6 separate regions of the Homo sapiens genome follow, and all the other regions are linked to region 4. The links come from fine-mapping of genetic effects on gene expression. A gene starts in region 4. Each other region holds a variant in brackets. All regions are shown on one strand. Distances are from middle to middle. Region 1 has its middle 88 kb from the start of CUX1. Region 2 overlaps CUX1 (cut like homeobox 1). Region 3 overlaps CUX1 (cut like homeobox 1). Region 4 holds the start of CUX1 (cut like homeobox 1). Region 5 has its middle 25 kb from the start of CUX1. Region 6 overlaps CUX1 (cut like homeobox 1).

Evidence for each region. PIP is the estimated chance that this variant, and not a neighbour inherited with it, causes the effect.
Region 1: its variant is the best candidate, but not a certain one, in a credible set for the expression of CUX1 in whole blood (INTERVAL, PIP 0.59).
Region 2: its variant is the best candidate, but not a certain one, in a credible set for the expression of CUX1 in whole blood (INTERVAL, PIP 0.88).
Region 3: its variant is the best candidate, but not a certain one, in a credible set for the expression of CUX1 in tibial nerve (GTEx, PIP 0.88).
Region 5: its variant is the best candidate, but not a certain one, in a credible set for the expression of CUX1 in whole blood (INTERVAL, PIP 0.61).
Region 6: its variant is the best candidate, but not a certain one, in a credible set for the expression of CUX1 in fibroblasts (GTEx, PIP 0.66).

Annotation. Positions count from the first base shown.
Region 1 is chr7:101,727,164-101,731,250 of GRCh38, reverse strand. No RefSeq gene overlaps it. Among named protein-coding and RNA genes, the nearest start is that of CUX1, 88 kb to the left of the region's middle. The variant C/T (reference allele first, on the strand shown) is at 1,627.
Region 2 is chr7:102,054,314-102,058,400 of GRCh38, reverse strand. All of the region lies in intron 3 of CUX1 (cut like homeobox 1), which reads right to left. Among named protein-coding and RNA genes, the nearest start is that of SH2B2, 230 kb to the left of the region's middle. The variant C/A (reference allele first, on the strand shown) is at 2,092.
Region 3 is chr7:102,118,158-102,122,244 of GRCh38, reverse strand. The region is part of intron 8 of CUX1 (cut like homeobox 1); the gene reads right to left. Among named protein-coding and RNA genes, the nearest start is that of SH2B2, 170 kb to the left of the region's middle. RefSeq lists an enhancer at 2,569-3,068. The variant AG/G (reference allele first, on the strand shown) is at 2,004.
Region 4 is chr7:101,815,791-101,819,877 of GRCh38, reverse strand. It overlaps CUX1 (cut like homeobox 1), which reads right to left and starts at 2,252. Exons shown (of 24, transcript NM_181552.4): 1 at 2,209-2,252. The coding sequence starts at 2,238. RefSeq lists silencers at 2,303-2,352, 2,403-2,472, 2,503-2,582, 2,653-2,972, 3,083-3,242 and 1 more and an enhancer at 3,068-3,996.
Region 5 is chr7:101,790,557-101,794,643 of GRCh38, reverse strand. No RefSeq gene overlaps it. Among named protein-coding and RNA genes, the nearest start is that of CUX1, 25 kb to the left of the region's middle. The variant T/A (reference allele first, on the strand shown) is at 2,387.
Region 6 is chr7:102,034,549-102,038,635 of GRCh38, reverse strand. The region is part of intron 3 of CUX1 (cut like homeobox 1); the gene reads right to left. Among named protein-coding and RNA genes, the nearest start is that of CUX1, 220 kb to the right of the region's middle. RefSeq lists a silencer at 1,765-1,967. The variant G/A (reference allele first, on the strand shown) is at 2,475.

The sequences.
Region 1 (4,087 bases), 89 kb after region 4:
TTCTTTCAGAGACAGGGTCTCACTCTGTTGGCCAGCCTGGAGTGCAGTGGTGCAGTCATAGCTCACTGCAGCCTGGAACTCCTGGGCTCAGGTGATCCTCCTGCCTCAGTCTCCCAAGTAGCTAGGATGACAGGTGCACGCCAGCATGAGTGGCTAATTTTTAAATTTTTTGTAGAGATGGAGTCTCACTATGTTGCCCAGGCTGGTATCAAACTCCTGGCCTCAAGTGATCATCTCAGCCTCCCAAAGTGCTGGGATTATAGGCGTGAGCCATCATGCCCGGCCTACGTGGGCTTTTTGCATATCCACTGGGTGCTGGGCTCCATGGCAGCTACAGGGGGTGTCATCATGCACGGCCTGGAGGGAGGGACAGACATTAATTCAGCAATCACAGCAACGTGGACACACTGGCCAGCACCAGGGAAGAGACAGGAGAGAGTCCAGGGTCAACAGGGCTCAGTGGCCTTGGCAGGGATGGCCATTCCTTGAAAGATGGGTTTCTGTAGGAATAAGTGACCTAATTAGCTGGATGCAAAGATAACAGGCTGAAGACGTTACCCAGAGGCTCACAGGTAAGAGGGGACAGGAGGACTATAAAGAGCTAAAATAGGCCAGGCATGGTGGCTCATGCCTGTAATCCCAGCACTTTGAGAGGCCAAGGCGGGTGGATCACGAGGTCAGGAGTTTGAGACCAGCCTGGCCAATGTGGTGAAACTCCGTCTCTACTAAAAATACAAAAATTAGCCGGGCATGGTGGCGTGCACCTGTAATCCTAGCTACTCAGGAGGCTGAGGCAGGAGAATCACTTGAACCCGGGAGGCGGAGGTTGCAGTGAGCTGAGATCACACCACGGCACTCCAGCCTGGGCAACAGAGCAAGACTCCATCTCAAACAAACAAAAAACCAAAGAGCTAAAATAAGACCCATGTATCTGGAGTGAAGGGGCCATGGGGAGGATGAGCTGTGGGGGCTCCCAGTAGGGGTAGGACTCCCAGGGGTCAAACCAAGTTGGGCCCAAGAGCTCAGTATTTATCCCCAGAAGGCACTGAAGGGTTTTAAGCTGAAAGACTTGGCCCTGATTGAAGTTTTGTGTTTTACAACATAACGTAAATGCCGAGGCCAAAGCCAGGCTGGGTGCGGCGGCTCACACCTATAATCCCAAGGCTTTGGGAGGCCAAGGTGGGAGAATCGCTGGAGGCCAGGAGTTCGAGACCAGCCTGGACAACATAGACCCCCTACATTTACAAAACATTTAAAACATTAGCTGGGCATGGTGGCACATGCCTGTCATCCCAGGTACCCTGGAGGCTGAGGTGGGAGGATCACTTGAGCCAGGAGTTGAAAGCTGCATTGAGCCATGATGGCGCCACTGCACCCCAGCCTGGGTAACACAGTGAGAGAGACGCTGTCTCTAAAATAAACAAAACAAATCCCAAAGCCAGAGCACTGGGAGTCACAGAGCTGACTGGGGGTGAGGTGGGGGGTGTCAGACTCTCAGGCTCCAAGTGGAAGAGCTGAGAGGGCTGAGAGGCCTGTGGGAAGGTGTGGCCCAGGGCTGTGTTTGGTTAGTCCAGCAGGATCCTTGGGCACCACCCCCAGTGTGCACCAGGGTGTGGCCCAGCCCTC[C/T]GGCATGAAGGCGCCACGCACTGTGAGCTATTCCTTCTACATGCACGGCGACCGCAGCCTTTGGTCTTGATAAGTAGATTATGTTGATTCACGGCCTTGGACTTCAAATTACAAAACCACGGTCTGGCTTGGGATAGTTCACCAGAGAGCGGAGAGATAGCTGGTCACAAGGCAGCCATGCGTCATCCCTGCCTCGATCTCAGGGAACTCTGTCCAGTGGGCTCTGCGTTTGCCTAGCATGAGAGAGGGCCATTTTTCTGCTTGGCCCCAGCCGCATTTAAGAAGCAGCTGAGAGCAGTGGCTAACGTCTGTAATCCCAGCACTTTGGGAGGCCAAGGCAGGCAGATCACTTGAGGTCAGGAGTTGAAGACCAGCATGACCAACATGGTAAAACCCCATCTCTATAAAAATACAAAAATTAGCCGGGCATGATGGCAGGTGCCTGTAATCCCAACTACTCAGGAAGCTGAGGCAGGAGAATCACTTGAACCCGGGAGGTGGAGATTGCAGTGAGATGAGATTGCGCCACTGCACTCCAGCCTGGGTGACAGAGGGAGACCCCGTGTCAAAGGAAAAAAAAAAAAGAAGCAACTGTAAGCAGGAACTCAGGCAGGCTGGGTGGGGACGGCAAGGCCTCCTATTGCCAAGGAGCTTGAGGAAGATTGTCGCTGGGGTTTTTTGTTTTCTCCTGTTTAAGTAATAGCTTTATTGAGATATAATTCACATACCATGCAATTCATCCATTAAAAATATACAATTCAATGGCTTCTAATGTATCCATTAGTGCAATTTCTACAATCAATTTTATTTTTATTATAATTTTAATTTTTTTTTTAATTTTTTTTTTGAGACAGGGTCTCGCTCTGTCACCCAGGCTGGAGTGCACTGGTGGCATCTCGGCTCACTGCAACCTCCTCCTCCCGAGTTCAAGCGATTCTCCTGCCTCAGCCTCCCGAGTAGCTGGGATTACAGGCACCTGCCATCACGCCCGGCTAATTTTTGTATTTTTAGTAGAGATAGGGTTTCGCTATGTTGCCCAGGCTTGTCTTGAACTCCTGACCTCAAGCGATCTGCCCACCTCAGCCTCCCAAAGTGCTGGGATTACAGGAGACAGAAGCTTCTTTCTCTGAGTTCCAGGATCCAGTGCAGGTGAGGAGCCCCACACGCCTGAACAGTAATTACAGCACAATGCAATCAACGTGTAATTAACTGTGTTACACGGCATGTTGCCCACTCTCACTGCTTTGCAAGTCCCGGGAGCGGGGAGATTGAGGGAACAGAGAAACCTACTGACTAATGCTAATCCCACCCAGGGTGCAGAGCCTGGAGCCTACAATTATCTTACCTCCAGCTGCTCCCTGAATCCTGTGGCAGGATGGTGGAGTATAGGGTCTACACCGTAGCTCTGAGCACGTGGGCTTTAAAGCCTCCTCCTAAATGCAGAATTCTGGACAGATGCGCGATTATGATGCTTGTCAGAGCGACAGGACTTACAATGGGATTTTTGGTGGGTCACAAGTGTTTCACATAAAAGGCCTTTCGAATCCCAGTGCTTTGGGAGGCAGAGGCAGAAGGATCGTTTGAAGCCAGGAGTTCGAGACCAGCCTGGGCAACATAGTGAAACCCCATCTCCACAACAACAACAACAAAATAGCTGGCCAGACCCTGTCTCAAAAAATAAAAAATAAAAAAGCCTTTCATAGGTGTGGCCCAAGGACCCACAAATTGCTCACTTTCAGTTTGAAACCATCACGTCCGCTGACACGTGTAGGATAGAAATCCAGCTAATGCTCCCCCTTGTTTCTGCCTCAGTGTCAGAGGCACCCAGGGCCTCTGAGCTGCGACTACAGTCCCATCCCCTAACTTGCTTTTTCCCTTTCCTCCTCCCAGGGCCAGAGGCTGATTGAACTTGCACCTCAGCCCCTGTCATTCACCTTCCATGAGTTTCCAGTCTGATGGAGGAGGCAGACACTAAACCGGATTATTTTTTTTAATTTAATTTAATTTTTATTTTTTAGAGACAGGGCCTCATTGTGTCACCCAGGCTGGAGTGCAGTGGTGCAATCATAGCTCACTGCAGCCTCTAACTCCTGGTCTCAAGCAATCCTCCCACCTCAGCCTCCCGAGTAGCTGGGACCACTCGCTCGTGCCACCATGGCTGGCTAATTTTTTTTTTTTTTTAGAGGTGGGATCTTGCTATGCTGCCCAGGCTGGTCTCAAACTCCTGGTCTCAAGTGATCCTCCTGCCCTAGTCTCCCAAAGTGCTGGAATTACAGGCGTAAGCCACCATGCCTGGTCTGAACCCAATGATTACGGTGCAGTGTGAGTGCTACATCTTGGAGAGGTATTGCTGGCTGACCGTCCCAGCTGCCTTTTCTGCTCATGAAACCCCTCCAAGACTGGCTTTCCTGTGACCTCTCTGGCAAAGCTTTCTCTGGCTCCTCCAAGGAGAGGCTACTGC
Region 2 (4,087 bases), 240 kb before region 4:
TCGGGAGGCTGAGGCATGAGAATCGCTTGAACCCTGGAGGTGGAGGTTGCAGTGAGCCGAGATTGTGCCACTGTACTCCAGCCTGAGTGACGGAGACTGTCTCAAAAATAGAACAAAAAAGGCAAATATGACAAAAAGAGCAAATATTGCAATGAAGCAAGTCACATAAATTTTTTGATTTTCCAGTGAATATAAAAGTTATGTTTGTATCATAGTCTATTAAGTATGTAATAGCTCTATGTCTCAAAAATGTACATATCTTAATTAAAAAATGCTTTATTGCCAAAATATGCTAACGATTATCTGAGCTTTCAGGGAGTTGTAATCTTTTTGCTGGTGGAGAGTCTTGCCTTGGTGTTGGATGGCTGCTAGACTGATCAGGGTTGTGGTTACTGAAGCTTGGGGTGACTGTGGCAATTTGTTAAGGCAACAATGAAATTGGCTAGCTTGATTGACTCTTTCGTTAACACAAGATTTCTGTGTATCATGCATTGCTGTTTGATAGATTTTTACCCACAGTAGAACTTCTTAAAAAATAGGAGTCAATCCTCTCAAACCCAGTCACTGCTTTATCAACTCAGTTTATGGAATATTCTAAATCCTTTGTTGTCATTTCAACAATATTCACAGCATCTTCACCAAGAGTAGTTTCCATCTCAAGAAACCACTTTCTTTGCTCATCATAAGAAGCAACCCCTCATCCATTCAAGTTTGATCATGAGGTTGCAGCAATTCAGTCACATCTTCAGGCTCCATTTCTAATTCTAGTTCTCTTGCTATTTCCCCCGCATCTGCAGTTCCTTCCTCCACTGAAGCCTTGAACCCCTCAAAGTCATCCATGAGGGTTGGAATCCATTTCTTCCAAACTCCTGTTCATGTTGCTATTTCAACCCCCTCCCATGAATCACAAATGTTCTTCATGGAATCTAAAATGGTGACTCCTTTCCAGAAGGAAAGGATTTCTATTTAATTTGCCTAGATCTATCAGAGGAATCACCATCTATGGCAGCTATAGCCTTACAAAATGTATTTCTTAAAAAATAAGACTTGAGTGTCAGAATTACTCCCTGATCCATGTGCTGTAGAATGCAGGTTGTGTTAGCAGGCATGGAAACAACATTCATCTTGTACATCTCCACCAGAGCTCTTGTTGACCAGGTGCACTGTCAATGAGCAGTCATATTTTGAAAAGAACCTTTCGGCTAGGCGCGGTGGCTCATGCCTGTAATCCCAGCACTTTGGGAGGCTGCGGCGGGCGGATCACGAGGTCAGGAGATCGAGACCATCCTGGCTAACACAGTGAAACTCCATCTCTAATAAAAATACAAAAAATTAGCCAGGCGTGGTAGCACACACCTGTAATCCCAGCTACTCGGGAGGCTGAGGCAGGAGAATCACTTGAACCCAGGAGGCAGAGGTTGCAGTGAGCCGAGATCGCACCACTAGACTCCAGCCTGGGTGACAGAGCGAGACTCTGTCTCAAAAAAAAAAAACCAGAAAACAAAAAACAAAAAACAAAAAATCTTTTTATCAGCCGAGTGTGGTGGCTCATGCCTGTAATCCCAGTACTTTGGGAGGCTGAGGCAGGCGGATCACGAGGTCAGGAGTTCAAGACTGGCCTGGCCAACATAGTGAAACCCCATCTCTTCTAAAAATACAAAAAGTAGCCGAGCATGGTGGTGGGAGCCTGTAATCCCAGCTACTCAGGAGGCTAAGGCAGAAGAATCACTTGAATTTGGGAAGCAGAGGTTGCAGTGTGCTGAAGTCATGCCATTGCACTTCAGCCTGGGTGACAAGAGCAAGACTGTCTCAGAAAAGAAAAGAACCTTTTTTTATTCTGGGCAGTAGGTCTCAACAGTGTGCTTAAAATATTCAGTAAAACATGCTATAAACAGATGCTGTGATCTAGGCTTTATGATTCCATTTCTAGTGCACAGGCAGAGTAGGTGTAGCTTAATTCTGAAGGCCCTAGGATTTTTCCGAATGGTAAATGAGCAATGGCTTCAACTTCAAGTCACCAGCTGCATTATCCCCTAACGAGAGTCGGCCTGCATTTGGAAGCTTTAAAGACAAGACACTGACTTCTCTTTA[C/A]CTATGCAAGTCCTAGATTATATCTTCTTCCAAGAGAAGGTTATTTTACCTACATTGAAAATCTGTTGTGTAGCGCCATCATCTTCGTTGATTATCTTAGCTAGATCTCCTGGATAACTTGCTGCAGCTTCCACCAAAGCATTTGCTGCTTTACTTTGCACTTTTGTATTATGGAGATAAATTCTTTCCTTAAACATCATGAATCAACCTCCGCTAGCTTCCAACTTTTATTCGGTAGCTTCCCCACCTCTGTCAGCCTTCATAGAATTGAAGAGTCAGGGCTTTGGCTTGAGACAATTAAGACCCAATTAAGAGAATTAGACTTTGGCTTAAGAGAATGTTGTGGCTGGTTTGATCGTCTATGCAGATCACCAAAATTTTCTCCCTATCAGAAATAAGGCTTTCTTATCATTCATGTGTTCACTGGAGCAGCACTTTTCATATCCTTGATGAACTTTTCCTTTGCACTAATGACTGGGCTAACTGGTGCAAGAAGTCCAGCTTTTAACCTACCTCAGCTTTCAACACGCCTTTCTCACTGAGCTTAATCATTTCTAGCTTTTGACTTAAAGTGAAAGACATGTGACTGTTCCTTTCACTTAATAGGCCATTGCAGGATTATTAATTTGCCTAATTTCAATATTGTTGTGTCTCAAGAAATAGGGAAACCCAAAGACAGGAAGAGATGGGAAACAGCTGGTTGGTGGAGTAGTCAGAACACACACAATATTTATCAATTAAGTCTGCCATCTTATATGGGGCACAGTTTGTGGTGTCCCCAAACAATTATGATAGTAATATCAAAGCTCCCTGACTGCAGATCACCATATCAGATATAATAATAGTGAATAATTGGAAATATTGTGGGAATTACCAAAGTGTGACAAAGAGAAAGGAAGTGAGCACCTGCAGTTGGAAAAATAATGCTGACACACTTGTTTGACTCAGGGTTGCTACAGACTTCCATTTTTGAAGAAACACACTATCTTCAAAGCATAAAAAAGTGGAGCTCAATGCAACAAAGTATCCCTGTAAAAAAACATTTGTCTTTCTACATGTTTGCAATAAATGATCTGAAAGTGAAAGTAAAAAAAAAAAATCCATTTATAATAGCATCACAAAAAGTATAAAATACTTACGAATAAATTTGGCAAAAGAAATACAAAACTTGTGCTCTAAAAACCACAAAACACTGCTGAAAGACACTAAACTAAATGGAAAGATGGCCAATGCTTATGGATTGGAAGACTTAATATTTTTAAGATGGCAATAGTCACGAAGTTGATTTACACATTCAAGGTAATGCCTATCAAAATTCCAGCTGGCTTTTTTTTTTTTGGAGACAGGGTCTCACTCTGTCACTCTGGTTGGAGTGCACTGTCACAACCTCAGCTCACTGCAACCTCCAATTCCCAGGCTGAAGTGATCCTCCTGCCACAGCCTCCGGAGTAACTGAGACTACAGGAACGCGCCACCATGCTTGGCTAATCTTTAACTTTTTTCTTGTAGAGATGAGATCTCATTATATTGTCCAGGCTGGTCTTGAATTATTAGGTTCAAGTGATCCTCCCGTCTTGGCCTCCCAAAGTGTTAGAATCACAGACAAGAGCCCCTGTGCCTAGACCCAGCTGGCTTCTTTGCAGAAATTGACAAGTTGATTCTAAGATTCATATGAAAATGCAATGACCCCAAATAACCAAAATAATTTTGAAAAAGGAAACAAGGTTGGAGGAGTCACACTTCCCAATTTCAATACTAAATACAAAACTACATTGACCTGAACTGGTAGGGGCATAAGGATAAACACACAGATCAATACAGCCCAGAAAGGAACCCTCATATTATGATCAACTGATTTTTGACAAGAGTGACATGACAATTCAAGGGTAAAAGAACAGTGTTTCAACAAATGTTGCTGGGACGACCAGATATCCACATGCAAAAGAGCAAAGTTTGATCCCTACCTCACACCATATGCAAAAATTAACTCAAAATA
Region 3 (4,087 bases), 300 kb before region 4:
TACAGCAACTCGTACTGGAAACTGATGACTCATCAAAAAGACAGGAAATAGAAAATTTTACATTCTTAAAGGTACAGCAGACAGACTCTGTTTTCAGGATGCTTAAGTTGTCCCTTTCAAATTCAATCAGGGGATGCAATATTTGTCTAAATATGATGGTCAAGACAGCTGGGTGATTCTCAGGTTTACTCAACCGGGCTCTACCTGGCCCCAGTTCTGTGAGTCTTTCATGAGGAATTATTGTTCAAAAAGGGAAAAATCAATCTGCTATGGTAAATACAACGGGGGCTTGTGAGGCTGGGAAAGGCTGAACCCCCCAGGAACGCCTGCCTTCACCTGACTAGCCCTCACCTTTGCTGCTTGATTACAAAGCTGGCACCAGAAAGGGGCTTTGAAGACCGCCGTGGTCTCAAGCAAAAAGCACTGGAATTTGAGCCTAAAGGACCAGGTCCAGGGCCTGAATCTGCGTGTTCCTGGGACTGCTTCCTCATCCATGCAATGAGCACAATAAAAGCTGCCCCAGTGACTTCAGGAAAGGGCAAACAAGATAACACTCAGGAAATCATTGTGAAATAGTCCAGAACAGTATGTAAACAAAGTATCCATCCCAGCTGCTCACACCTGTCATCCCAGCACTTCAGGAGGCCAAGGCGGGCAGATCACTTGAGTCTGGGAGTTCGAGACCAGCCTGGCCAACATGGTGAAACCTCGTCTCTACTAAAAATACAAAAATTAGCTGGGTGTGGTGGCAGATGCCTGCAATTCCAGTTACTTGGGAGACTGAGGCAGGAGAATCGCTTGAACCCGGGAGGCGGAGGATGCCGTGAGCCAAGATCGTGCCACTGCACTCCAGCCTGGGCAATAGAGCGAGACTCAGTCTCCAAAAAAAAAAAAAACCAAAAAGCAAAAATTAGCCAGGCATGGTGGCACAAGCCTGTAATCCCAGCTCCTCCAGCAGCTGAGGCAGAAGAATCACTTGAACCCGGGAGGTGGAGGTTGCAGTGAGCCATGATCGCACCACTGCACTCCAGCCTGAATAACTAACAGAGACCCTATCTCAAAAAAATAAAAAATAAAATAAAAAGAAAGTATCCATCCCACCCACATTTGCCATGCAGACTTGTGTCTTGAACTGCTGGTATCCTCCTCCCCTCCTTTTAAAAATTATTATTATTATTTTTAGAGATGGGCTCTCGTTTTGTCACTCAGGCTGGAGTACAGTGATGCAATCATAGCTTACTACAGGCTGGAACTTCCAGGCTCAAGCGAACCTTCCAACTCAGCCTCCCAAGTAAATGGAACTAAAGGCACAACACCATGCCCAGATAATTTTTGTATTTTTTGGTAGAGGTGGGGTCTCACTATGTTGCCCAGGCTGGTCTCAAACTCTTGGGCTCAAGTGATCCTCCCACCTCAGTCTCCCAGAGTGCTGGGATGATAGGCGTGAGCCACCATGCCCAGCCTCCTCCCCTTTTCAAATTCTGTCTTATGTCCTCCTTTGGGATCTGGAGTTCTCTATCCCTCCAAAGAAGCGTAGAGGCTCCCCAGTGCTGAGTTAGCTACGGGAAAGTTTTCTGCTGTTTCAGAGCACGTTGTATTTTGTGATAAAGTACTGGTTATATACATGTTATAAAGAAAATACTCTAAAATTAACCTAAGTGAAGTTCCTCGTAAATGTCTCTTTTGTAACCGTACTATGTAAGTATGTGTATACACAATGTCGTTCTTTGAAAAAAGCATATAGGCTAGGAATACAACATGAGTAACCTTAAGAAATACGAATTTTACTGGCAGGAAAGGTTTGGGAGGTGCAAATTCTCCTAAGACTAACATTAGCTATAAAAAATGTAGTATTTCAGTGCGATTCAATATTTTCTTTCATCGAGGCTCAGTGCCTCGGCCCACGAGTGGGGAGGAATGCAAGAAGCTGACTGTGTGTATTGCAGCTGGAACTCCTTTTCCAATCCAGATTCTTGGGGACAGGGCATAGGATCGTGGACTTC[AG/G]CAAAAATGGGAATTCCTGCATTTTTGCCCAGAACACTAGCCGCTTGGCTGGGAGGGCGACATTCCTGCTGGAGGGTGCAGTAGCAACCCAAACCCAAGATCAAGTAAGTGAACAGCTGCAGGAGACGGATGCAGGAACTTGGGGCAGTGAGGGATGCCCAGGCCTCTCTCTGGGCTGCCTACTGCTGCGTGATTCCAGGGATCTGCCACCTCCACGGCCATCCATCCCAAGGAATTGTTTAGATGTTAAAATCCACAGCACGTTCCTTTGCTAGAGTCTCCAAGGTTAAGGCTATTAGGGTGGTAAATCTCCATTTGCTAAGAGAAGCGGGAAGATCCGTACACAGGGTGACCATCTGAGAAGGAGCTATGTTTTTAACTAAAGAAAAAAGAATGTCAGGCGTAGTGGCTCATGCCTGTAATCCCAGCACTTTGAGAGGCTAAGACGGGAGGATCACCTGAGGCCAGGAGTTTGAGACCACTCTGGGCAACACAGTGAGACCCTGACTCTAAAAAAATTTCAAAAAAGAAAAAAAGGGCAGAAATAATTCATTTATTTAACCCAGAAATGGTTATAATCGGAAACCTTGCAATCCTCTTACACAACAACTGTTTTGGCAAAGCCCCCATGTTCCAACAAATATTAAACTGTGCTTGCCATTTGTCTAAGGAATCTTGCATTAATAAACATGAAGAAGAACACTTTTACCTCCCACTCTCAACGACAGGACAAAACAAAGACCAGCTGTATTCATCAATGGGCCCTTGTTCTGCACATAAAGGCTAATTACATTTTGCTTCAAGCCTACACATGGAAAACTTTACTGCCGTTGTCTGCCACAGTCAGCCCGTGCTGTCCCAGCTGACGCATGGCGATGACTGCTCACGATAAACCGGGGTCTCGGAGCAGCCTCAGTACCACAGACCTGCGGGCTTCTCTCCAAAACGGGAGAGGGATGGGTACCCTGTGACATCTCCCCACGACAGACAGACAATGTGGGCCCAGTCCGTCGTGGTGATGCGGTGAAAGTCAATTTCCTCCAAGGCCGTTAATTTCAGAAACGCATACCACGCCCTGCTCTGAGCTTGCTGGGAATAGCTTCTATCTCTCGACAGCTTAGCCTCAGACTCTCACCATGCCAGGTGCTATACACACACATCCCATTCCTGCCTCTTCAAAACCACCTAGCATGCTGGGTGCAGTGGCTCACGCCTGTAATCCCAGCACTTTGGGAGGCTGAGGTGGGCGAATCATGAGGTCAGGAGATCAAGACCATCCTGGCTAACATGGTGAAACCCCGTCTCTACTAAAAATACAAAAATTAGCTGGATGTGGTGGCGCACGCCTGTAATCCCAGCTACTTGGTAGGCTGAGGCAGGAGAATCGCTTGAACCCAGGAGGTGGAGGTTGTAGTGAGCCAAGATCGTGCCACTGCACTCCAGCCTAGACGACAGAGCAAGATTCCATCTCAAAACAAAACAACAACAACAACAACAACAAAAACCACCCAGTGACTTGACTTCCGGTATGCCCATTGTACAGGTCAGAAAGGGAGGTGGACAGCTCATAGCTCATTCAGGGTCACGCAGAGAGCTCGTAGTGGACCCTAGTGAATCAATCCCAAGTCAGTCTTTCTCCAAAACCCATCTTCCTTCATGCCTCTCCAATTCCCGTCAACAAATATTTAAGAATCCCTTTTTTTTTAGACAGGGTCTTGCTCTGTCACCCAGGTCGCAGTGCAGTGGTATAATTAGGCTCACTGCAGCCTCGACCTCCTGGGCTCAAGCGATCCTCCCACTTCAGACTCATAAGTATCCAGGACTACAGTTAGGAGCTACCATGCCAGGATAATTTTTGTATTTTTTGTAGAGACAGGCTTTTGCCATGTTGCCCAGGCTGGTCTTGAACTCCTGGGCTCAAGTGAGCCGCCCGCCTCAGGCTCCCAAAGTGCTGGGATTACAGGTGTGAGCCACCGCGCCTGGCCCTAAGAATCCCTCCTTCAGAAGAGGGAAAATAAATTGTTTTTGAAATGCTGTAAGACCATATGTGAAAAGATTTGCCCCAAGGGGCTTATATTCACAA
Region 4 (4,087 bases):
CTACCGACAGAAGATACACGAAGCCGAGGATGTAGTCAAAGGGCTCTCTGTGGACTCAACTGTACCAGGAGTTGTTGCATTAACTCACCACTTGCACCTTTAAGGAAAAAAAGAGTTTCACATAGGAAAAAACTTAAATCAACTGCCAATGACCCCTTCCCACATCCAACCTCAAAGACACCCATATTAAAAGAACCAAGAAAACAAAAGCAGGAGCAGCAGTGGTGTAATTTCTTGAACTGCTCTTTTATAAAGGGTACTAGATGGGACATTTTAATTAAAATAATATACTTATTATGGCAAACAGTACTGGACAGCCAGTAACATACACACTTCCACAACAGGGGGAAAAAAAGCCATCAGAAAATGGACTTTCAGCAAAACTGAAATTGTTTTTTGATTCTGAAAAAGAAGGCAACTTTTCAAGTTTACTTTTGCAGAAGCTGCTTAAAGGGGAAGGCTGGTCACCATGTGGGAATAATGTCCCAAAGGGAAGGCAGTCATTGGCGGGCCCCGTCCCAAAGAGTTCAAAGCTCCACTAACATACAGAGTGCCATGAGCTTTGTCTTAGAAAGTGTCCTCCTTTCAAATATGTATTTAAAAGACAAATTTATACAACAGTGCTTTTCTTATTTAAAAAGAAAAGAAAACCTGGTTTTTACAAGTCTGAGATAGGATAAAAAACTTGTCCAACTAGTCTTAGCAATACCAAAGCACTGAAACTTCCATACCACAAGCCTTTGGGACTAAAAAGGAAACGGAATAAAACACAATCTTCAGAAATTCTCTTCCTGAGCACACACTCCTGTGCCAAGGCAGCAGCTTCAAGACCCAGGAAGCCGAGGGACAAGAACCCAGTGAGCCAGGGTTGCAGAACTGCGGAACGGCCCAACCTCACCTGGACCCGCTGACGTCTCCAACCTGGATTTCTCTCTGCAAAGACCGATCAGCCTCTTTACCCCCAGGTGGCAACCCAATCTCAGTATAAAGAGGTCTGGAAAAATGAGAAAAATCTGGAACTAATGAATTCTCTCCCAAACTCGTTCTATTGACTCACTGACTATCGGTGGGAATTAACCAGACACCAACTCCAAAGGCCTCCTCACCGCCCAGAGAAAGAACCAGATTGGCCTGAGACTTGAACTTTGACATTCCGTATTCGACTAAAGTTTGCAAACCCATAGGAAATCATCTAAGGCCAAATCGTTAGCAACCACCAAAAGCAAAGGAGTAAAGAGGAATGAAGTTCAAATAAGGGACTTTGTTTTGGGGTTTGGTTTTGATTTCTTCTTAATATCCACATAAAGTGCAAGTAAACTGACATGGAAACTTTCGATGGAACCCTGGAGCCCTGATCCCCTGAAGAAGTAGCTAATATGGGGGACAGGAAGGTTTAGAGTTCTTAAAATCTAGTAACTCTAGAAACCAAATCCATTTTCCAGGCAATTTTGCCAGGATGCTTTAAAAAAGACACTTCATTGATATTAAGCTAGGATGTCACATTTAGGAAGACAAGAGAGAAAAATAATAATAATGTTTGTCCTTAAAACTCCACAACGGGTTTTACAGTAAGCACAGGAATTAAATTATGGTAAAAGGGAGCTATTTTTACTAAAACAGGGTAGACCAATTTATCAAAAATGCCATTCGGCTGTGTTCATTACATCCAGGAATCTAATTTACACAATAGACACTTTGGAGTAATCTATTTTAGTCAATAAATACTTAAACTCCTTTAAGTTTTAATCTTATCGGAAATACATATTTCGCATAGTCTTCTTCCTAGTTAAGCGAGAAATTTCAGGAAATTTCATAACGACTATGACTCGGCTTTATCGTTCTTAGTAGGCAAGAGCAGAAAACAAGCATATACAATTAAAGTTGTCAGATTCCATTTAAATATGTTTTAATCCAACCCGCTTCGTTTGATACAAGCCTGCATCTCGAGCTTTGCTCCCAAAGGTATTGCGGTAGGTCACTGTCACCAGTCCTCCAGGTTAGGAAAGTTCAGCCAAGTTTATCTTCACGCACACCTTAGCAGTTGGGAGTAGCTGCAGTTCCCCAGGGGCCCTGAGGAACCCTCCTATCCCCTCCCAGAGCACCAGGCCGCCCTAGAGCATTCTAAGCCGCGGGACCCGGGCACCCCCCGACATCCCCGGTTCCCTCCGCGCCTGCAACCTCGGGACTTCTGGCCCACACGCCGCTCACCTTCAACCTGGCTCCGGCTACGCACAACATCCACCTGGCAGAGTCCCGGGGCTGTCCCGGCGCCGCGGGCGCCGAGCTGGCACGTGCGGGGCGGACCCTAAGGGTGCGCCGCTCCTCCGGGCGGGGGGTGGCAGGCAGGCACTCGCCCCTTGGGCACGGCGGCGACTCGGGCGCGGGCCGGGGAGCCCCGGCACGGTCCCCCCGCGGCGCCGGGGACTCCGCGCGCGGACCACCGCCCGGCATGCCACGGTCCCAACGGGCCCCCGGGGCTCTGCTTTCGAGAACCCGGCCCGAGAAGGCATCTCCGAGCGCACCCGCCGCGCGCTCCATGGCGGGCCCTGCAGAGAGGGCAGAAGCCCCGAGGGGACGCAAGGAAGGGACCCGGCGCCGCAGGTCACCGGGGGCCGCCGGAGCCCCCAGGCGCGCGGCGATCGCGGCTCGGACCGGCGGCGGGGAGGCAGCGTACACTGCCCGGGCACCCGGGGGAACAGCTTGGGGCCTGCCTAGGGGAAAGTTGCAGCCTCCTCCTCCCGCGCCCGCACCCGGCGGTCCGGGACACCGGGACCCAGCGACACTGCGCGCGGGGCACCCCCGCCGCCCCTCGCCAAGTTTCCCCAAAGAGCCCCCGCGGGGGTCCGCCACGGAGGAACAGGTCCGCGTCACCGACACAGGCACACAAAAGAGCGCGGCGGCCGCGAGGTGCGCGGGTGGCCCCGGGGCGCTCCCCGGGACGTAAACAAACCCGGGGGTCCGCGCCGGGAGCCACACGCGGGGTGCCGGAGCGGCGGCGCGGCCCGGGCCGGTGACAGCCGGGGGCGGCGGCCGGGGCCGGCCGGGGGTAGCGAGCGCGGGCGCCTGCCCGGCCACCCGCCCGCCTGGCCGGAGCCGGGCCGCGCCGCCGCCGCCGCCGCCGGTGGCCGCTCTGACCCTCCCCCGAGCCGGCGGCACCACAGCGCCACCAGCCCCAGCTCCGCCGCGCCGGCGGCAGTGGCGGCGGCTCCTCCTGGAGAGGCAGGCGCTTCACCCCCCGCAGCAACTCCCCACAAACTTTCCCCGGGAATACGGCGGGCCGGGGGCGCGGGGCGAGCGGGCGGGCGGGCGCCACCGCCGGGCCGCGGCCCCCTCCCGGCGCCCGCCGCCGCCCGCCCCCCGCCGCCCGCTCCCCGCTCCCCGCTCGCGCGCGCACCCCGCGGGCCGCCGGGGCCGCCCCCTCCCCGGTCCCGCGGCGGCAACGGCGGCGGCGGCGCTGGCGGCGGCGGCGGCGCGGGGCCCGGGGGGGCGCCCGGGGTGGGGGCAGACACCGGGGGCAGTGGTGGCGGCGGCGGCTCCCGGCGCCATCTTGGGCTGATCGATGAATTGAACAAAGAGGATCAATTTCCGATCAAGCGAGTGATCAATGGGGGCCGGGGAGCGGGAGGGACTCGGCCCCGACTCGGCCCCGCGGTGCCCGGCACCCCCCTCCTCCCCGCCGCCGCGGGCCCCCCGGCGGCTGGGCCAGCCCGGGGCCCCCGGCGGAGGCCGCGACCGCCCGCAGCCCCCACCCCCGGGCGCGAGGCCGAGCGCGGAGGAGCCTGACCTGCAGCTGCTGTAAATCAAAGCGCTTCCAATATTGAAACATCGATCCCACATTGGCCGCCATCTTGAGACATATTGAGACGGAGTGAGCGGCTGATAGAGAGGGGGCTGGAGTTCAGGAGCCGCCAGGAGGCAGCAGGCGGGCGGCGCCAAAACCCGGCCTGGAGCCGGCCGCCGCCGCCGCCACCGAGGACGCGGACTCCTCCTCACGGCACCGCCGCAGCCATGGCGAGCCCGAGCCGGAGCCGGAGTCGCAGCCCCAGGGCGCGGCGGCCGCGGCCCGGCCTCGCGCGCGCGGCCCCGG
Region 5 (4,087 bases), 25 kb after region 4:
TTTTAATAGAGATGAGGTCTCACTATGTTGCCTGGGCTTGTTTCAAACTCCTGGCCTCAAGTGATCTGCGGCCTCCCAGAGCACTAGGATTATGGGTGTGAGCCACCGCTCCCAACCTGCTTCTGCTTTTCATTTCCCTTCATTCCCTCCCCCTTGGGTTCTATACTCTCAAGTTCACAGGATCTAGGGACCAAGTCACCCAGTGGCCATTCTCCAGGGCCACCTGGGTGAGCCTCCTGAAATGCTTACCTCTGGCATCTCTCCTTTTTTCCCTTTTTTGAAGACAGTCTCCCTCTGTTGCCCAGGCTGGAGTGCAGTGGTGCAATCTCAACTCACTGCAACCTCCGCCTCCCAGGTTCGAGCGATTCTCCGGCCTCAGCCTCCCGAGTAGCTGGGATTACAGGTGTGCACCACCATACCCAGCTAATTTTTGTATTTTTAGTAGAGACAGGGTCTTGCCATGTTGGCCAGGCTGGTCTCAAACTCCTGGCCTCATGTGATCCACCTGACTCAGCCTCCCAGAGTGGTGGGATTATAGGCGTGAGCCACTGTGCCCCGCCTGGCCTCTCTCCGGCAAGTCTTTCACGCTCCTCGCTATTTTCCCTGGAGTTAAGCTCTAAGCCCCTACTTCCAGTCTCAGCCTCTATCCTTCCATCAGTGCTCCAGCCCTCCAGAATCCTCCCTCCTCCCTGCTCCCCAGACACCATGTACACCAATAGGGCCCCACAGTCCTTTAATGGCCAGCGTCCACCATGACTGGTCAGGGCCCCTCCCTTCTGATTGGACAGTTGTTAAAGCGTTTTCTAACATCCACCCGCATCTGAACGTCCCAGGCACCAGAGTCATCACTGATTCCTTTCTTTGCCCGGGGTTTAATCACTCCATGCAAGGGACGGGCATGTCTTCTGTCCCACTTTGTAAGGGTGCCCAACTCTCCAGGCCAAGGCTATCCTTTGGCCCTCAGAGCACGTCACATGGATTTCATCTCAGAATCGGATGTTGCCTGCAGTCTGTTGGTCTCACTGTGTTTCAGTTATTTTCCAATTTCTTCCACTGACCTGAGCTCCACCTCAGGGCGGAGACCTTGTCATATTTCTCTACAGGCCTGGCACATAGTAGGCATCTAATAAATGTCTTTTTGTTTGTTTGTTTTGAGGCGGACTCTCGCTCTTTCGCCCAAGCTGGAGTGCAGTGGCGCGATCTAGGCTCACTACAACCTCCACCTCCCGGGTTCAAGCTATTCTCTTGTGTCAGCCTCCCGAGTAGCTGGGATCACAGGTACGCGCCACCACACCCAGCTAATTTTTTGTAATTTTAGTAGAGACGGGGTTTCGTCAGGTTGGCCAGGCTGGTCTCGAACTCCTGACCTCAGGTGACCCACCCGCCTCAGCCTCCCAAAATGCCGGGATTACAGCTGTGAGCCACCACGCCCCACCACGTGTAATAAATGTCTGATGAGTGCAGGTAGGAAAAAAGGAGCCGGGCTCCTTCCTCAGTGAAGAGTTAAAGGTCAAGGGTCATGAGGTCTAATCTATCCCTCTGTACAGTTTATTTTCAGGGTCTCCTTTTGTATTTAAGAATGGGTGAGCAGCTGTGGACGGTGGCTCACGCCTGTAATCCCAGCACTTTAGGAGGCTGAGGTGGGAGGATTGCTTGAGCCCAGGAGTTTGAGACCAGCCTGAGCAACATAGCAAGACACCGTCTCTACAAAAAATAAAAAAATTAGCCAGGTGTGGTGGTGTGGGCTTGTAGTCCCTGGTACTTGGGAGGCTGAGGTTGCAATCCTTAAGGAGAATCGCTAGAGCCTGGGAGGTCAAGGTTGCAGTCAGCTTAAATCACACCACTGCACTCCAGCCTCAGTGACAGAGCAAGACCCTGTCTCAAAAAAAAAAAAAAGGGAAAAGAAAAAAATAATGGGAAAACCATACCAGCCACCTCCTACCTTGCTGGAAGGTGACCAGCCTGAGGTCTGGTTTTCCACAATTTCCTGAAAACTTCCCAAACATCTGGCGCCAGTGTGAAAAGAGCCGGGTGAGGCCTGGAGCCAGAATTAGGCCATCAGTGTTCCCTGAACCTGATAAAATCCTAACCGTCCCAGAAGCCAAGCTGGACTGGGGCGTGAGATCATCACATGCCTGAGATACTTGAATCAACTTGTTCACAGCTTTCCTGGGTCATGTTTTTCATAATTCATGATTCACAGGAGACTTTTAACAACAAAAACATTCAGATTAAATTTTTATATGAGATGTTTTTCCTTTCTTCTACAAGCATTATCAACCATTTCGATCACAAAAAAAAAAAAACCCTCTGCCCACCTCCATAATTATTTAAGGATTTTTTTTTTAACTTGTTTTTCTACTTAATTTGATTCAAAGATAGGAAC[T/A]CTGGGTATCGAAAGGTGGCATTAAATTGTGGTTTCTCAGGTGACTCAGACAATTTGATGATCCAATTTGTTTTCCTTTCTTTCTTTTTTTTCCTTTTTTTTTTTGAGTCAGGGTTTCGCTCTGTCGCCCAGGCTGGAGTGCAGTGGTGTGATCACCAGTCACTGCAGCCTGGAACTCCTGGGCTCCAGCGATCCCCCCATCTCAGCCTCCCAAGTAGCTGGGACTACAGGCATTTGCCACCACACTTGGCTAATTTTTAAATTTTTTGTAGAGATAGGATTTCACTATATTGCCCAGGCTGGTCTTGAACTCCTGGGCTCAAGCAATCCTCCCACCTTGGCCTCCCAAAGTACTGGGATTACAGGGGTGAGCTACCATGCCTGGCGCTTTTTTTTTTTATTAAATAGTACATGATGCCCTGTCCCTCAAATGAAAACAAATAGGGCAGATTGCTTGAGCCCAGGAGTTTGAGACCAGCCTGGGTAACATGGCGAAACCCTGTCTCTACAAAAAAATACAAAAATTAGCTGGGCATGGTAGCACGTGCGTGTAATCCCAGCTACTCGGGAGGCTGAAGTGGGAGGATCACTTGAGTGCAGAACATCAAGTTTACAGTGAGCCGTGATCATGCCACTGCACTCCAGCCTGGGTGACAGAACAAGATCCTGTCTCAAAAAAAAAAAAAAAAAGAAAAAGAAAGAAAAAGAAAAGAAAACCACACCAGAAAATCTTTTAGCAATACCCTCAAGTCAGTTTTCTCTTTTTTCTTTTTTTTCTGCTGAAAGAATACTCAAAGAAACAGCCCAGCTCTTTTTATTTCTCATGGATACTTTTCAGGGACCTATGTGTGTAACCATTAAAAGACATATTGGAACCATGCTGAAAATTCCATCTCTTTGAATAAGGACTGACTTCACCCAGTCCCCAAGAAGTAACAAGACGGCTGATTACTGTCATTATTTTTGCCATTTGAAAACTCTCCACAGATGTTTCTTTCTCTACGGTCAGAGAGGCTGCTGCTTCAAGAGTAAGACTTGTGCCATGTTGCCTTCAAACAGGAGAAGGGGAGGGGAAAACGATTTAAAAACAAGAGGGAGCTGGGTGCTGTGGCTCATACCTGTAATCCCAGAGCTTTGGGAGGCCAAGGCAGGAGGACTGCTTGAGACAAGGAGTTCGAGTCCGGCCTGGGCAACATAGTGAGATCCCATCTCTATGACTGATAATTAAAAAAAACAAAACAAAACATGTTTTAATTAAAAAAAGAAAAATCAACAAAGAGTATTTTTATGATGGTCTTTTGGAAACAAGTTTGCTTTCTCTTGTTTTCTCTGTGCTATAAGGCCAAGGGCACAGGTCCCTCCTCCGAGGTGAGGCTCCTCTCTCTGACCAGGTGGGGAGTAGGTCTGGCTGCACAGTGGAGGGTGGAGCATTGCCCGTCATTCCTTCAGGACTGACACCCTCAGTGCCCCGCTGCTGGGAATGCTGGTGGCTAACAGCTTTTAGCTGAGTCCTTTTGCAAATATAGCCTCCCCAAAGACAGCCACCTTGGTCAAGTCCATGGCCCTCCCCGAAGGCAGCCAACATCTATGGCTTCTCAGTGTAGGGGTTATAAAGGCCCAGTCCCCATGCCTCAGGGTGGGACAACCCTGATGGGTGAACGCAGTTCCGGGGACCTCACAGGATTTGCTGTGGCCTTTGTT
Region 6 (4,087 bases), 220 kb before region 4:
ACTGCCGCGTCAAGGTACAGGTGAGTCTTTATCACCAGATGCCAAATTGGCTTTCAAAAAGTTTAAATCAACTTATGCTCCTAACTTGACTTTTTAATTTTAGCCAACTTGGTCAGGAGGAATAACTTGCAGATGAGTTATTTTAATCTGCATATCCCTGGTTATTATGCAACCTAGACATCTTTTCATATAGCTACTGACCATTCCAATGTTCTGACAATTATGCTCATGACTTGTACTCATTTCCTTACTGGGTTTCTCCCCCCATTGACATGCGAGCATTTTGAATATCTTGTGAACATTGTTAATTACAGGTGTGACAACTACCTCTTCCAGATTTGTAAATCATGGCCAAGGTTACCCCACATACAACGGTGGGATGCACAGCCCTAGACAGTATGCTTCACATTCTGGATGTCTGAATCTATCACGGTAAACACTGAGGTAAGTATGAATCTTTATTATGGCAAGTTTCCAACAGGTGATGTGAAAAGTATTGAGAACGGCAAACCTTTTTTCTAGTTCACATGAACATACCATGGAGCTAGCAGTGTACTGGCCTTATCTTTCTGCTTTTTTTTTTTTTGAGACAGAGTCTCACTCTGTCGCCCAGGCTGGACTGCAATGCTTTCAGCTCACTGCAGCCTCCACCTCCCAGGTTCAAGCAACTCTCGTGCCTCAGTCTCCCGAGTAGCTGAGACTACAGGCATGTGCCACCATGCCCAGCTAAGTTTTGTATTTTCAGCAGAGATAGGGTTTCACCATGTTGCCCAGACTGGTCTCAAACTCCTGACATCAAGTGATCCGCCTGCCTCAGCCTCCCAAAGTGCTGAGATTACAGGCATGAGCCACCACACCCGGCCATGTTTCCACTTTCTTTAGGGTATCTTTCCATGAAAAAAGCTCCTATTTAAAAATTTTAAGGTAGTTTACTGCAACAATCTCTTTTATGGTTTTCTGTTTAAGAAATTCTACCCAGCCCAGGGCCGGGCGTGGTGGCTCACACCTGTAATCCCAGCATTTTGGGAAGCCGAGGTGGGTGGATCACATGAGGTTGGGAGTTCGAGACCAGCCTGACCAACACAGAGAAACCCTGTCTCTACTAAAAATACAAAATTAGCTGGGCGTGGTGGCGCATGCTTGTAATCCCAGCTACTCTGGAGGCTGAGGCAGGAGAATCACTTGAACCCGGGAGGCAGAGGTTGTGGTGAGCCAAGATCGTGCCATTGCATTCCAGCCTGGGCAACAAGAACAAAACTCCGTCTCAAAAAAAAAAAAAAAGAAAAGAAAAGAAAGAAATTCTACCCAGCCCAAAGTCATCATCTTTTATATTTTATTCTATAAAGTTTAAAGCTTTGATCTAAGACTCTCCTTGTAATTTGTGTTTCCACACGGTGTAAGGTAGGGCTCCAACTCTAGTTAATTGTTTGCCTGTCTGTTTGAGACAGGATCTTGCTCTGTCAGCCAGGCTGTAGTGCAGTGGCACGCGATCAACAGCTCACTGAAGTCTCCAACTTGTGGGCTCAAGCAATCATCCCACCTCAGCCTTCCAAGTGGCTGGGACTACAGGCGTGTGCCATCACACCCAGCTAATTTTTGTAAGTTTTTGTACAGACAGGGTTTCACCATGTTGCCCAGGTTAGTCTCTAACACGAGGGCTCAAGGGAACTGCTTGCTTCAGCCTCCCAAAGTGCTGGGATTACAGATAGCAGCCAGTGCACTCGGTCTCAACTTCGTTTAATCTATAAGGATTTGCCAATCGTCAGAGGACCATGAAAAGTCCCCCCTTTCCTCACTGATCCATACCATCTTTGCAATTTATTCAGCTTCTATATATATGCATAGGCCAGATTCCGGTGTTTTTTTTTTTTTTTGTTTGTTTGCTTGTTTTTTTGAGATGGAGTCTCACTCTGTGGGCCAGGCTGGACTGCAGTGGCACAATCTCGGCTCACTGCTACCTCTGCTTCCCGGGTTCAAGCAATTCTCCTGCCTCAGCCTTTCAAGTAGCTGGGACTACAGGAGCACGTGACCACACCAGGCTGATTTTTGTATTTTTAGTAGAGACGAAGTTTCACCATATTGGTCAGGCTGGTGTATGGAACTCCTGACCTCAAGTGATCCTCCTGCCTTGGCCTCCCAAAGTGCTGGGATTACGGGTAAGAGCCAACGCGCTCGGCCAGATTCTGATTTCTTTATTGTGTTCCTTTGGTTTATTTATCTCATTCTCTGCCAACTACTGCAGCTTTAATAATCTGGTAGGGCAATTCCTCTAACTTGGAGTGGTTCAGTATTATCTTCACTATTATTTACCATTTGTTCTTGCATATGTATAAAAATTCTGGAATCAGCTTTTCAAAAGTTTCATTAAGATTCTTGCTGGGGCCGGGCTCGGTGGCTCATGACTGTAATCCCAGCACTTTGGGAGGCAGAGGCAGTCTGATCGCCTGAGGTCAGGAGTTTGAGACCAGCCTGGC[G/A]AAACCGTCTTTACTAAAAACACAAAAATTAGCTGGGTGTGGTGGCAGGCGCCTGTAATCCCAGCTACTTGGGATTACACAAATGTAATATGTGAACCTGATTGGACCTCAGCTGCAGGGAGGGCCGTTACAAAAGAAATCTTAGGGATAACCAGAAAAATTTGATTTTAGATCAAATAGGAGATAACCTTGAATCCGGGAGGTGGAGGTTGCAGTGAGCTGAAATGGTGCCACTGTATTCCAGCCTGGGTGACAGAGCGAGACTCTGTCTCAAAACAAAAAAAATTTTGTTGGGATTTTTACTGGAACTACAATGACTGATTCTGTGATCAATCTGGAGAAAAGTGATCGCTTCAATAGTAGTGGAAATTTCTCTCCTTGTATACTTTCTCTCTCTCCATTTAACTCTCCTTTAATATCCTTCAATATAAATGTTACATCTTTCTCTAGAAAGATTTCCCTTGTATTGTTACATTCATTTCTAGCTATAGTTTTTTTTTTTTTTTTTTGGCTGGCTATCTCCAGTAGTATCCTTTTTAAAAATGACTTTTTAAGTTTGCTGCTGATACAGGGGTATATAATTACTTTTGTATATTGATTTTGTATCTAGTAACCTGGTTAAATAATTGAGGCTCACTTGAAAAATGACAGTTTGATTTCTTCTGTTGCAATACTTATACTGTAGGCTGAAAATATTATAGTCAAAAATGTATTTAATAAACTAACCTGGCAAACATCATAGCTTAGCTTAGCCTACTTTAAATATATTCAGAAGACTTACATTAGCTTATAGTTGGGGAAAATTATCCAAGACAAAGCCTATTTTATCATCAGGTATTCACCAGCTCATGTAATTTATTGAATACTGTACTGAAACTGACAAACGGCATGGTTGTATGGGTACTCAAAGTACAGTTTCTTTGCATCATCCTAAAGTTGCACCATCGTAAGTCAAGAGCTATCTGTACTTTATTTCTTTTTGTCTTCTCTGCTAGCTAAGATTTGCAGTACAGTGTTAATTAAAGTAGCAATAGTAGGTATTCTTGTCTTGTTCCTGGTTTTCTGGGAATTTTTTTTTTTTTTTTTTTTACCACCACTGGGTCTGATGATTAATGTATGTTTCTGATAAATACCTTTTACCACATTAAAGAAGTTTCCCTCTATTCCTAAGATGTTTCCCTCTATTCCTAGTTTGTTAGTAGGGTTTTTTGTTTGTTTGTTTGTTTTTGAGATGGAATCTTGATCTGTTGCCCAGGCTAGAGTGCGGTGGCGCGATCTCGGCTCACTGTAACCTCTGCCTCCTGGGTTCAAGTGATTCTCCTGCTTCAGCCTCCTGCATAGCTAGGTGTACAGGCCTGCACCCACCACACCCAGCTAATTTTTTGTTTTTGTATTTTTTTTTTTTTTTTTGAGACGGAGTCTCTCTCTGTCACCAGGCTGGAGTGCAGTGGCACGATCCCGGCTCACTGCAACCTCTGACTCACTGGTTCAAGTGATTCTCCTGCCTCAGCCTTCTGAGTAGCTAGGATTACGGGCATATGCCACCACGTCCAGCTAATTTTTGTATTTTTAGTAGAGCTGGGGTTTCACCATGTTGGCCAGGATGGTCTCGA